2 separate regions of the Homo sapiens genome follow, and region 1 is linked to region 2. Evidence: fine-mapped expression QTL. A gene starts in region 2. The other region holds a variant in brackets. All regions are shown on one strand. Distances are between the middles of the regions. Region 1 overlaps BCL9 (BCL9 transcription coactivator). Region 2 holds the start of BCL9 (BCL9 transcription coactivator).

Region 1 (5,377 bases), 57 kb after region 2:
CAAGTTGTGAAGAGCAGGTATGTGGTGACACAGAACAAGACTCAAGCTCTCATCGAATGCCAAGGGCCTCAGGTGAAGCTGCAGGAGGAAAGGAGGTGGGAAAATTGATTTCCACCTAACGAAGGAGACAATTAGTTTTAAATTTTCCAGCCAGGGATGAAGCTCTGGGACTCCCCCATTGACTTCAATAGACTGGTGAAAGGTAGGATAAGGAGATTTGTTTCTTTTGCCTGGAAAACCTAAAAAGAAATAATTTCCTGGCTATGTTATTACAGCATTGGGGCACAGCACTATGAAAGTCAAGAGATTAGATTGACTTTCTTTTTTTTCTTTTCTTTTTTTTTTTTTTTGAGACGGAGTCTCGCTCTGTCGCCCAGGCTGGAGTGCAGTGGAGCGATCTAGGCTCACTGCAAGCTCCGCCTCCCGGGTTCACGCCATTCTCCTGCCTCAGGCTCCCGGGTAGCTGGGACTACAGGCGCCGGCCACCACACCCTGCTAATTTTTTGTATTTTTAGTAGAGACGGGGTTTCACCGTGTTAGCCAGGATGGTCTCAATCTCCTGACCTCGTGATCCGCCCGCCTCGGCCTCCCAGAGTGCTGGGATTCCAGGCGTGAGCCACCGCGCCTGGCCGAGATTAGACTGACTTTCTAATGGTTAGATGCTATTCCATTCTAACCCATCATTTTCAATTATTAATGACTCTCTTGGTAGTATTCTTTTGGAGCTGAAATTCACCAGTTTTGGTGAACAATGAGGTAGATGAATCGGTAATAAATATTAATAGTACAAGCAGCAGGAGCCCATGGACAAGCTGAGGGCTTTGACCAAGGCAAGAATTTGTTAAGCCCTCTTATAACCCTGATACTAGCTGGCTGAGTGGGCTCAACCTTTGTTAGTCTTGGTTTCATCATTTCTGAGGAAGACTTTCATATTCTCTCCTACAATAATAAATATTGTTAGGAATGAACAATCATTGGAATTTAGAATACTGCTGTGGAGTCTTGGACTCAAATTCTAGTCCCTAAAACTGAGCATAATCTTGGCAAATCATTGAACTTCTATGCCTTAGCATTCTGTAAGACAGAATGGAATTCCTTCCAATCCTAAAATTTAGGTTTAAGTTTATCAAGAACGGAGGAAACAAAAGCACTTGTTGCCTCAACTTGAAAGTGGAGTTTACAGGTGGAAAAACTGGAGGCAAACCTAACATAAATGCTATGATTAGCTAAAGAACTAAGAAGTCAAACTTACATCATCTATGTTTGCAACACAGTGAGTGCTCATCATTATGAGAAGCAAATTTCAGTAAGTGAGAAAATCAAAACCAAGTCTCTTTAGCATCAAAATCCTTTATTTTTAGCAATTTTACCATTTGGGTAAAAAAATGATTTCTTATCTTAAAATTTCTAGAGTAGCAGTACCAGTTTGAAGCTCTTATTCATAGGATGCTTTTAAAAAAGCATTTCATTATCCATTAATGTTTATGTATATACAGTGTGTTAAATCCTTATACACCAAAATAGAATTCTTTCTCAAGTGAGATGAAAATGCATACAAGGTAGAAAATTCAGAGGGCAAAAATTCTAGTAAAATAACCTATTTAATAGAATAAATCCTAGTTTAAAACACATTTCTATCCCATGTGCAATGTAGCTAAATTACCATTTCTATGGAACCTCTAACCTTTAGATTTCATGACTTTTTAGCGTGCTTAAATTCTCAATAGTATTATTCTTTTACCCTAGTGTCGTATGTTTAATATTCATTTGCATTTTTCTTCTGATTCAATAATAATTTTGAACTTTGACACATAATGGCTGCATGAGGGCTTAACGCTTAGTAAAATGGCTAAGACTTTCTTTTAACATGTGTATTATTGTTTTAATGAGTTTGTTTTGAGCTTGCTGAGCAGAGGTGATCTGGTCTGGGATTCCCCCCAGGCCAGAGCTTATTTTGGCAGTGGTTTTCTCTTATAGACAAGTTCTGTGAGTTCCTTCTTTCCACCTACATTAGCAATCCCAAATGTTTCTTGCATATTGCTGATTTGGTTGTCTTTTCTAATACCATAAGAAAAGTCCGTAAGTCCATACCTGACTTTTTCCTCCTGCCTTCTTTTACAGGGGTTCTTAGCTATGTTACATCAAATATTCTATGCCCCAAACTTGACAAAAGGCATTTTAATTATTTTCTATTTGGAATTCTTCAATTGATCTTGATATTGTTTATACCAACTATTGCCTTTCTTCTTTATTTAATTTATATCCTCAGTCATGACAGAAGACAAAGAGAAAATACCTTGCCACAGTTTTTCATAGGATCTAAGCAGGGGAGGCGGCTATGGTAACTTACGTTGACCAGTTAAAGAGTTTTAAATGATTTCGAAAGCAGATCGGCTTTATCATTTAGGGCTCTCTTGACCATCCTTTACAACTAGCACCATTCCTTAAAAGGTTGCCCAAGGAAGGTTTCCTTTAGGAAGGGAAACTGACACAGGAATAAGTACCCTGGTTAAAACCATGGGTGATAGAAGCAAGAGCAGAAGATTTATCTCGTCCTCCTGGCCATATTGCCTCCATCTGT[C/T]TCCAGGGAGAACACGCAGTACACTCTAACATGGGCAGTCTTCACCTAACGGATCCAGAAGAGCTGCGGGGTCAGTGCACACAGTTGCCGAAGCAGCTAACTTAGATCAAGACCCCACAAGGCACAAGGACAGAGGTGTAACAACAGTGTATTCTGGGGAGGGTGCAGAGCAGACAGATCTATAATAACGGTTGTTCACCGCAGCAACCGGGGCCACACAGATGGAGCAGAATAGCCCGAATCTGAGCTTTGATTCAGCAACATGCTCTAACCATGATGCCGTCATTTTTTCCTTCTGAGAAAAAGTGTAATCTAATGGGCTACCCTCTCACAACAGCGCCGGGATACTCAGGCTTTGACCCCTTCAGAGCAGAGGTCTTCCGAAAAATTAGGGGAGCTAGCCCGGCTGTGAAGCGACGTGAGGTCCTGGACAGAGGTTCCCTCTGTGGGCACCAGGCAGCGATGCCTGAGCCAGGCTGGGCTGGGCCGGATGTGAAAGGAGACCCCTGCACCCCCGGCGCATCAGCGGGACTCCTGCACTTCGCAGAGGGCGGAGGAGAGCGCAGTCCTGGGTGGGGGCTGCTCTCCTGCGAGGGGAGAAAGCCGGCCATGGCCCAGGCGGTGCAGACTCAGAGGTGGAGAGAAGGGACAGGAAAGCGGGGTGGAACTGCGTCCCGAAGGTGTGAGGAGGTGGCCTTGAAGGTTGAGGGCTAGGCCGGGACCTGGGCAGCAGGGAAGAGTGAGGGAAAGACCGGCTCTTCAATTCGTTTCTGTCAAAAGATGGCCAAATTCCACGCTGCCCTTCCCCCTCCGCGCCTTTCCTGGCCCCCCGCCCCCCTCGGTTGCTCCCAGGACTGCGCGAGGCGGCGGGAAGGTCCGGGAGAGTGAGCGCGTGGGGAGGAGGGGACGGGAAGAGGAGACCCTCCCGTGCCGAACCTCCCGCCCCGCCGGCCCCTCAGGAGGCTCTGGAGTTGGGGACTAGAGCTCTGCCGCTTTAAGGGGGGAGTGGGCGTCCCCTCCAGCCGGGTGACGGTCCGGGGCGGGCCCTGGCGGGCGTGCCTATGCAAACCAGGAGGTGGTGCCGGCGGTGGGCGGGCCCGTAGTAAAATATCGGGGGCGGGGCGGCGGGAGGTGCGGCTGCCTGGTGGGCAGGGCCCTGCGGGAAGCTGGGGGCGGGAGGAGGCCGCGGCGGGTTGGTACCATCGCGCGCGTCTGGGGAGGGGGACGAGCGACTTTCCCTGAAGGGGCACGAGCGACTTTCCCTGGAGGGGCGGGCCCTTGCTGGTCGCGGGGCCGGACGCTGAGGCGGGGCGGGGCGGTCCCGGTTCCCCGCGGGCGGGACGTCGGGCCGGTGGGGAGGGGGCACCCTCCGCTCGCGTCCGAGGCGGGGCCGGCTGTACCTTTCGTGGCGCGGTGCGGCGGGGGAGGGCCGAAGGGAGGGAAGGGGCGGGACCGGGAGGGGGGAGCCGGAAAGGGGGAGGCGCCGGCGGACAATGGAGCCTATGTGTGCTTGCCGGAGTGGGACGGCGCCGCCGCCGCCGCTGCCGCCGCCGGGGGGAGACGCTGCGCCGCCGCTGCCGCTGGCCCCGGCCCCGCGGGGCTGAGAGCCGCCCCGGACCCAAGCCTCTTTCCCTGCTCCGCACCTCCTCTCCCCTCCCCCACTCCTGCCTCCGGGGTAAGTGGCACCTGGGGGAGGGGGAGGGGAAGGACCGGAGCCGGGGGTAGTGGGGGCCAGGTCCGCGTCCGCGTGTTTTGAGCCGGTTTGGGGGCAGGGGTAGCCACAGCCGCGAAGAGCGGGGTGGAGGGGGGCAGAAAAGGGGCGGGGGCCAGGGTTGCGGATTTAGTGAGGCGAGTCTGGAGGAACCTGTGGGGGGAGGTGGGGGTGCTTCACGGGCGGTGGAGAGAGAGGGCATCTCTTCTTTTTTTCAAAGGTTGTGTCCCAAGCAGTGCTTGGAGAGGTTAAACCAGGAGAGTGAGGACAGTCCCAGGGTCCTGGGATGCAGGAGTGTTGGAGGGGCGAGATGGAGAGCTAAATAAGGGAATTGGGATTGAGTTTGATGAGGTCTGTAAGACCCCTGAGATGGATAGAGGTAAAGGGGACTTTGCAGGCCAGTGACTTGTTGAAGGGTAGGGGAGGTGGAAGCTAGGAAGAATGTGTGAGTAGTTAAGGGCCCAAGCAGGTGAATTGGTGATGTCTAGGTCACTGAGTCATTGTGGGGGTCTTGGGACACACCAGTGATTTCCAAAGTGGAGCCTGAGTCACTGGCCTTTGAAAGTTGCAAAGACTATTAAGATGTCACTGATGAGTGTTGGGTGAGCCTGGTGAAATGGAGATATCCTAAGTAAAACAACAGCAGGGTTGGTTATTATGTCCAGAGGGAAGGAGAGGGAGGGGCCAGAGGCCTGTAATAGTATTGCTGGGGGCCTTATGGGAAGGCTACCAAGCATGAAGGAGGAGGCCAGAAATCTGTCCTCCAAGAGGTCTGAAGGAGGGGGAAGGAAAAATGGGTTTTTAGTGATAGGAGAGACTTAGAGCCTAGATTGGAGTCCAGCTGGGGACTAATAAAGTTACTAGATAAGTTAGAGAAATGGACATAACTATCTCTTAGTGGAGAGTCTGTAAGATGGGATAGAATTGATGCAAAATTTGACTTTGATTACAGCAAACATAGGTAAATCCCTGGCAGTGATTTCAGTGGGGAAATGATTTTCTATGTAAAGAGTTACATTTTGGTCAATGATGGGTATTGGAGTATTAGTTAGCACTTGATATATTCAGGAATTAAATGTTCGTTT
Region 2 (5,377 bases):
CAATCTGAAAATAGTGCAGTCATTGAAGGTTAAGTCGACCCTTTATGCAATTCTTGCCTGGGAGGCCTCATTGTGTATAGTGAGTCACCACCACTTAGAAGTGGACAGTGAGTCAGTAGCCTATTAAGGGGAGGTCAGAAGTTCCCCTGGCTCAAAATGAAAGGATCCAAACCCAACCCTGGGGTACAGAAAAAACAGTGTACTTATATGGCTGACTGGACTTGAAGTGCCATGGAGTACCTGGACTACTCCAGTGAGAAGGCATAATATGGCGGGTAAACGCTGGGGCTTTAGAATCACACAGGCCTCAGTTGGATTTCAGCTCTACCTCTGCCTTGCTGTGTGACCTCAGACAAGTTGCTTAACCTCTCTGTGCCTCGTTTTTCTATCATCTGTAAATGGAAATGATCATAACAAAAATTACTTCATGATACAAATGAGTGGGAAAATGCTAAGAATCAAGTAAATACTTAAAAAAAGGTTATTATTATTATTATTATATTACCACATCATCATCATTAATGGGAGTCGGGACAGACAGTTCAGGGATCAGGGATAATGGAGGAGCAAATTAAGGGGGAAAATAACAGGAACAAGTCTGTGTCTTTGATGTGGTGAGTTTTAGGTAGTGACACCTCATTTAGCTGGTGTTAAGTATGAAAGAAGTCATAATTTATTCTTTACTGCATACCTATGAAGGAATGAGTGATGTGTGTTCTCATAATTTCCATTTTGTAAAGGAAGATTCTGAGGAATAGAGTCTAAACAATCTTCATGAAAAAGTACAGAACTGATTCAGCAGCAGTTAGGAGCTAAGCTTCCATTCAGATCCTGTTGCATAGGGATAACTCTTCTGGCCTAGGCAGAGGAGACCTTGTTAGGTCTGTGAGTCCACAGTATCTAAAAATATGAATGTCATATAATCATCCTGTCATTCTTCTTCCTGATCTCAATTGGCCCTCCTGATTTCATGCCATCTGCAAATTTGCACATCCTTTGTGCTCCTTTTTGCTCACATTTTATGCCTTCTTTTACCATCTCATTTACTCTGCATGTTTCAATCTTTCTGGGCTTCCATTTTTCTTCTTTTTTTAATGCAGTGTTGTTTCTCTCTCTCTCTCTCTCTCTCTCTCTCTCTCTCCACTCCTTTACAGCCCCCACCTCCTCCCTCCACACCAATCAAATTCCTGCTTGTTTCTTGCCATATTCATTATCCTACCTCATTCCCCTCTTATTCCTAGAAAACAGCACACTCACCCTCCCCTCCTCCAACTCTCAGGCCCACCCTCCATAAATTCCAGCAGCCTGGCAATCAGTAACTTTAGCATCACACTTCACAGCTCTCCTAGTTTACACTACTTGTTACTACTCTCCTTGCTACTGCTCTCTAGGGTTTCTGCTAAAATAAAAAATAAAAAAAAATAAAAAAAGCTTCACTTTAAAAATATCTTGGGTACAAGTTGAACCTACAGTTAAGTTTACTCACACATTTACACATTTCATGATTTTATTTTAACTAGTAGCTCAAGTCCATGCTCAATTATGCAGTGAAAGAAGGCTAGATCCTTAGGAAACAAATTTTTCTCTATTGTAAAGAAGAAAAATCACCTAACCACTCAACAGAAACCCCAGTCCTGGGGCCACTCACCCTCTTATCTCCCTACTCCCCCAATCTCCAGCTAATGGGACTTTGCTTTTTCCTTTGTCGGGTCATTTATTTCACTTTTCCTGGCGCTGAGATGGCCTGAGTCTGTGTATGTGTGCACACGTGTGTGGCCACTGCTTTTCTTCCAAAGGACTCACCTCTCTTCTGCCATTTTACTAGGACACAGGAGGCGGCTCTCTGCTCTCGCTCTCCCTCTCTTTTTCTCCCTGCCCCCAACTCAGCCTGGGCTTTTTCCTGTCTCTTAACTCCACCAGTGCAGCAGCAACTAGCTGAGCTGCTTGAGAGAGAGAGAGAAGAGAGAGAGAGAGAAGAGAGAGAGAGAGAGAGAGGAGAGAGAGAGAGAGAGAGAGAGAGAGAGAGAGAGAGAGAGAGAGAGAGAGAGAGAGAGTGTGTGTGTGTGTGTGTGTGTGTGTGTGTGTGTGTGTGTGTGTGCCTGCGTGCGCAGCTAGGCCAAGCCTGCGAGCCTGCCTGTCACTGGAGAGTTTTAGTTTGCATTCAGAAGAAAGGAGGAGGGGAGACAAGAGGGGAGGAGGAAAAGGTGGAGGGGGGAGGAGTGGGGGGGCGCAGAGAAGGGAGGGAGAATGTCTTGTTTGTGGCTTGTCAGCAATTGCTTGAGACAAGCTTCCATGTGTGAAAGCTACTTGGCATGAATGCCTGGGCCGTACCAAGTGTCACCGCAGCAAGAGGGGGAGTCAGAAGAAAAACAGATCAGACCAGAGCAGACAATAGGCCCCTAAAGTGTTCCCCCTAAGTTGCTTTGATGTTGTCCTGGTGTCTTGATACCAGGAGGCCAGGGATTGCGGGAAAAGGGTCTTTTTTGTCTTCATTCACTTTCCCCCCTCAGTTTCTGAAATGATTCTCCAGAATTTCTCCTCATAAAAAAGGTAAGAGCCCTAACAATTCCTTCTTCGGTGGCAGGCTTGTTCGCCTGTGCCTGGAAGTGGGGGTCTCATTCCTGCGCTGCTCTGGAGGAGCGCTGGGGTCCTGCGATTGGAGCTCCTGCGTTGCCCCTGGAAGTCTTTCAAGGCATCCAGGACTGGGGATGGCCCCTCTTTCGAGGGAACCCCAGTAACACGATCTGTGCCTCTGGGTTGGTGGGGGAGAAGGGGTGGATGGAGAGGGCTGGGAGGAGGGTGTGAGGGTGGGAGGGAAAAGAGAGAGAGAGAGGGAGCGCGAGAGAGGGAAGCCTGGAAAAGAGGGAGAGAAGGGCAGAGCCTTGGTTCAGGGAAACCCCAGCCCAGAGCCCAGGGAGGCCTTGCAGGCTCCGAGCTGTGCATTCTCAGGCTGAGCAAGGGCCGGCCAGGGCTCCGCCGAGTGACTGCAGAGATTGCATCGAGCTTTGTGTGTGCCAGTGTGCCCGTGGGTCTGTGTGTGCGTGTGGACTTCCCACACACTGCCCTGGCGTGCCTCGCTGTGAAGGGGAGGCACCCCGATCCTTACCACCCCAGCCCAGACTCTCCGAGGAGGAGCGGCATGGCAGGCAAGAAGGGAGAGCAAGAGAACTCTGCCACAAGACGATCCAGAAACTTTTCCAGTCTCAGGGATTCCTCTGGTCGTAGAGACTGTTGAGTTGTGGGGTGCCCCGTGCCTCAATTTCCCCATCTGTAAAATCAAGGTTGCTGATCAGGGATGCTGTATGCCTCCCTGGGATTGAGCGAAACAGAACAGATCACTGTGTCTGAAACGCGTGGAGAAATCGTCAGCTAGAGATGCTGTGGAATCACAGAGTAGAAGTGTTATCATTATTCTTGATCATCATCATCAGGGTAATAAAAACATCATTAAAGACACCCTGAGACAAATAGACTGAGGAGCACAGATCAAGTGTCTGAGCATTTCTAAGGAAACAAAAAGCCTTGTTCCACCTGTTGGCTTCTGTCCTTTTTCTCTTGTGTCTTTTCGTTAGATTTATTGGCCGATTTGTACAGAGAATGGGGTGGGAGGGGTTGGGTTTTCCCCTTTCCTCCTCCTTGTACGTATTTTTGTTTTAAAGAAGGTCAATGTAAGATGCTTGAGCGAGAAAATGTGCCTCCTGGTATAGTAGTTTATTCAAGACCTTGTGTTTTCTGGGGCTGGCAGGGCATGCAGACGCATCTGTAAACTCTACCTTGGAGGTTAAAGATTTTTATTGTGGCTTTTAGAGATTAAATGAGATTTATTTACAATTGCTGTTTATCAGAGAGTAAATATCTTACTGTGTGTGTACGAGGCTAAGAATGTGAAGGCTGTTTACTCGCCGGTGGTTTTGTGGATAAAACCTTTTGCTTTTTCAAGTGACATCTTGAGGGATGGAACAGAGGGCTAAAATCAGTGCCTAACATTCATCTTAACAATTTTTTTTGAGGAAAAAAAATGTCTGCTTATTTTCTTGAATTGTGGATTTCCTTTCTTCTGTTCCTACACATTGATTGTTTAAAGGCTCTCAGTTGTAGCTCTCTCTGAATTCTCTGGAGGAGTTCTGCTTTCTTACCTAATTCTAGGTTTTCTGTGACTCTGCTACTTGTCCAAAAAAATCTGTAAAAGTCTAGGAGGCTGTGCCTCCTTCCATTCTAACTGCAAATGTTTATCAGACTGACTCCCTGTGATAGCTGGAGATTGAAGCAAAGGGCCAGCCCTGGCTGAGAATATTTATGTGCTTTTCACAGAGGCCTGGAAACCTGACTTCTGAGTATGGGAAAAGCTGAAGGAAAGCCATTAGTTGGCCTGGATCTGGCAAGAAGGTCCCCCTACATTTAAGGTTTTATTAAAATAAAGCTGTATTTTATGCATATATATATCTGAAAACTTAGTTGTTTTCTACTTTATAGTCAGAGATCTTACCATGGTTGTTCCTGACAAGATTTCAGGGTCCAGATATCTTCCTAAAATGTTAGAATTTAAGAACTGCAAGGAAAAAGAAGTGTTATTCCATCATGTTATAGATGAGGATGTTAAGGTCCAAGAGAGATAAGCACTGATCTGAGGCGGGTGCAACAAAGCTGTGGTAACATCTAGACCACACCCTGGGGTTCAGAGTACCCCAAGGGTCTTCATGCCGGGTACCCTTACCTCACACCCACATTTGATTTTACAAACTCCAGCACTTGGCCAACCAAAGAGAGGCACCTTTTGTAGTTCTGCTTGCTGTGCTGGATTACAGCAGCACACTCTGCCCTGCTCATGTCATCAAATGGTACAAATATGCAAACATGGGTCCACAACATGAATTTGCATAAATTCATTCATGTATTCATTTGTTCATTCAACTTATATTTTGGGGCTCTTTACTCTGCAGCAGGCAAATACTGGGCACTGAGGATATAGGAAGAGAAAGGCAGATATACCCCTGCCCTCAGGGAACTTACAGTCTTGTTGGTATGATCAACATTAACCACATGGTCACACAAACCAGTAATCATAATATTGATGATACTTGTTGAATAGCATGCAAGTATTATGACGGAGTGCATAGAGTTGCATAAGTTATTGACTCAAAGTGTGTAACTAGACATAAGCTAACTGTTCTCTTTCTCTGTGTGGCTGAGTTCCCCTTGCCCCAGCCAACCTCCATTCCACTGGTGCCATTCCTATTCACAGGGAGCCCAGCAATTCCAAAGAGCAGAAAATTCTCCTTCCCTCTCTCACCATCCTTCACTCTCTCTCTTTTTCTTAGCACACAGACCAACAAATAATATCTGCTAATCCCCTACACTTGTGCCATGAAGTAACTTC

The links. PIP is the estimated chance that this variant, and not a neighbour inherited with it, causes the effect.
Region 1: its variant is fine-mapped to the expression of BCL9 in whole blood (TOPMed, PIP 0.97).

What each region holds. Positions count from the first base shown.
Region 1 is chr1:147,596,082-147,601,458 of GRCh38, forward strand. All of the region lies in intron 1 of BCL9 (BCL9 transcription coactivator), which reads left to right. Among named protein-coding and RNA genes, the nearest start is that of BCL9, 57 kb to the left of the region's middle. RefSeq lists an enhancer at 1-455 and silencers at 3,249-3,328, 3,359-4,408. The variant C/T (reference allele first, on the strand shown) is at 2,582.
Region 2 is chr1:147,539,125-147,544,501 of GRCh38, forward strand. BCL9 (BCL9 transcription coactivator) reads left to right here and starts at 2,377. Exons shown (of 10, transcript NM_004326.4): 1 at 2,377-2,550. RefSeq lists enhancers at 2,035-2,329, 2,048-2,802, 2,363-2,422.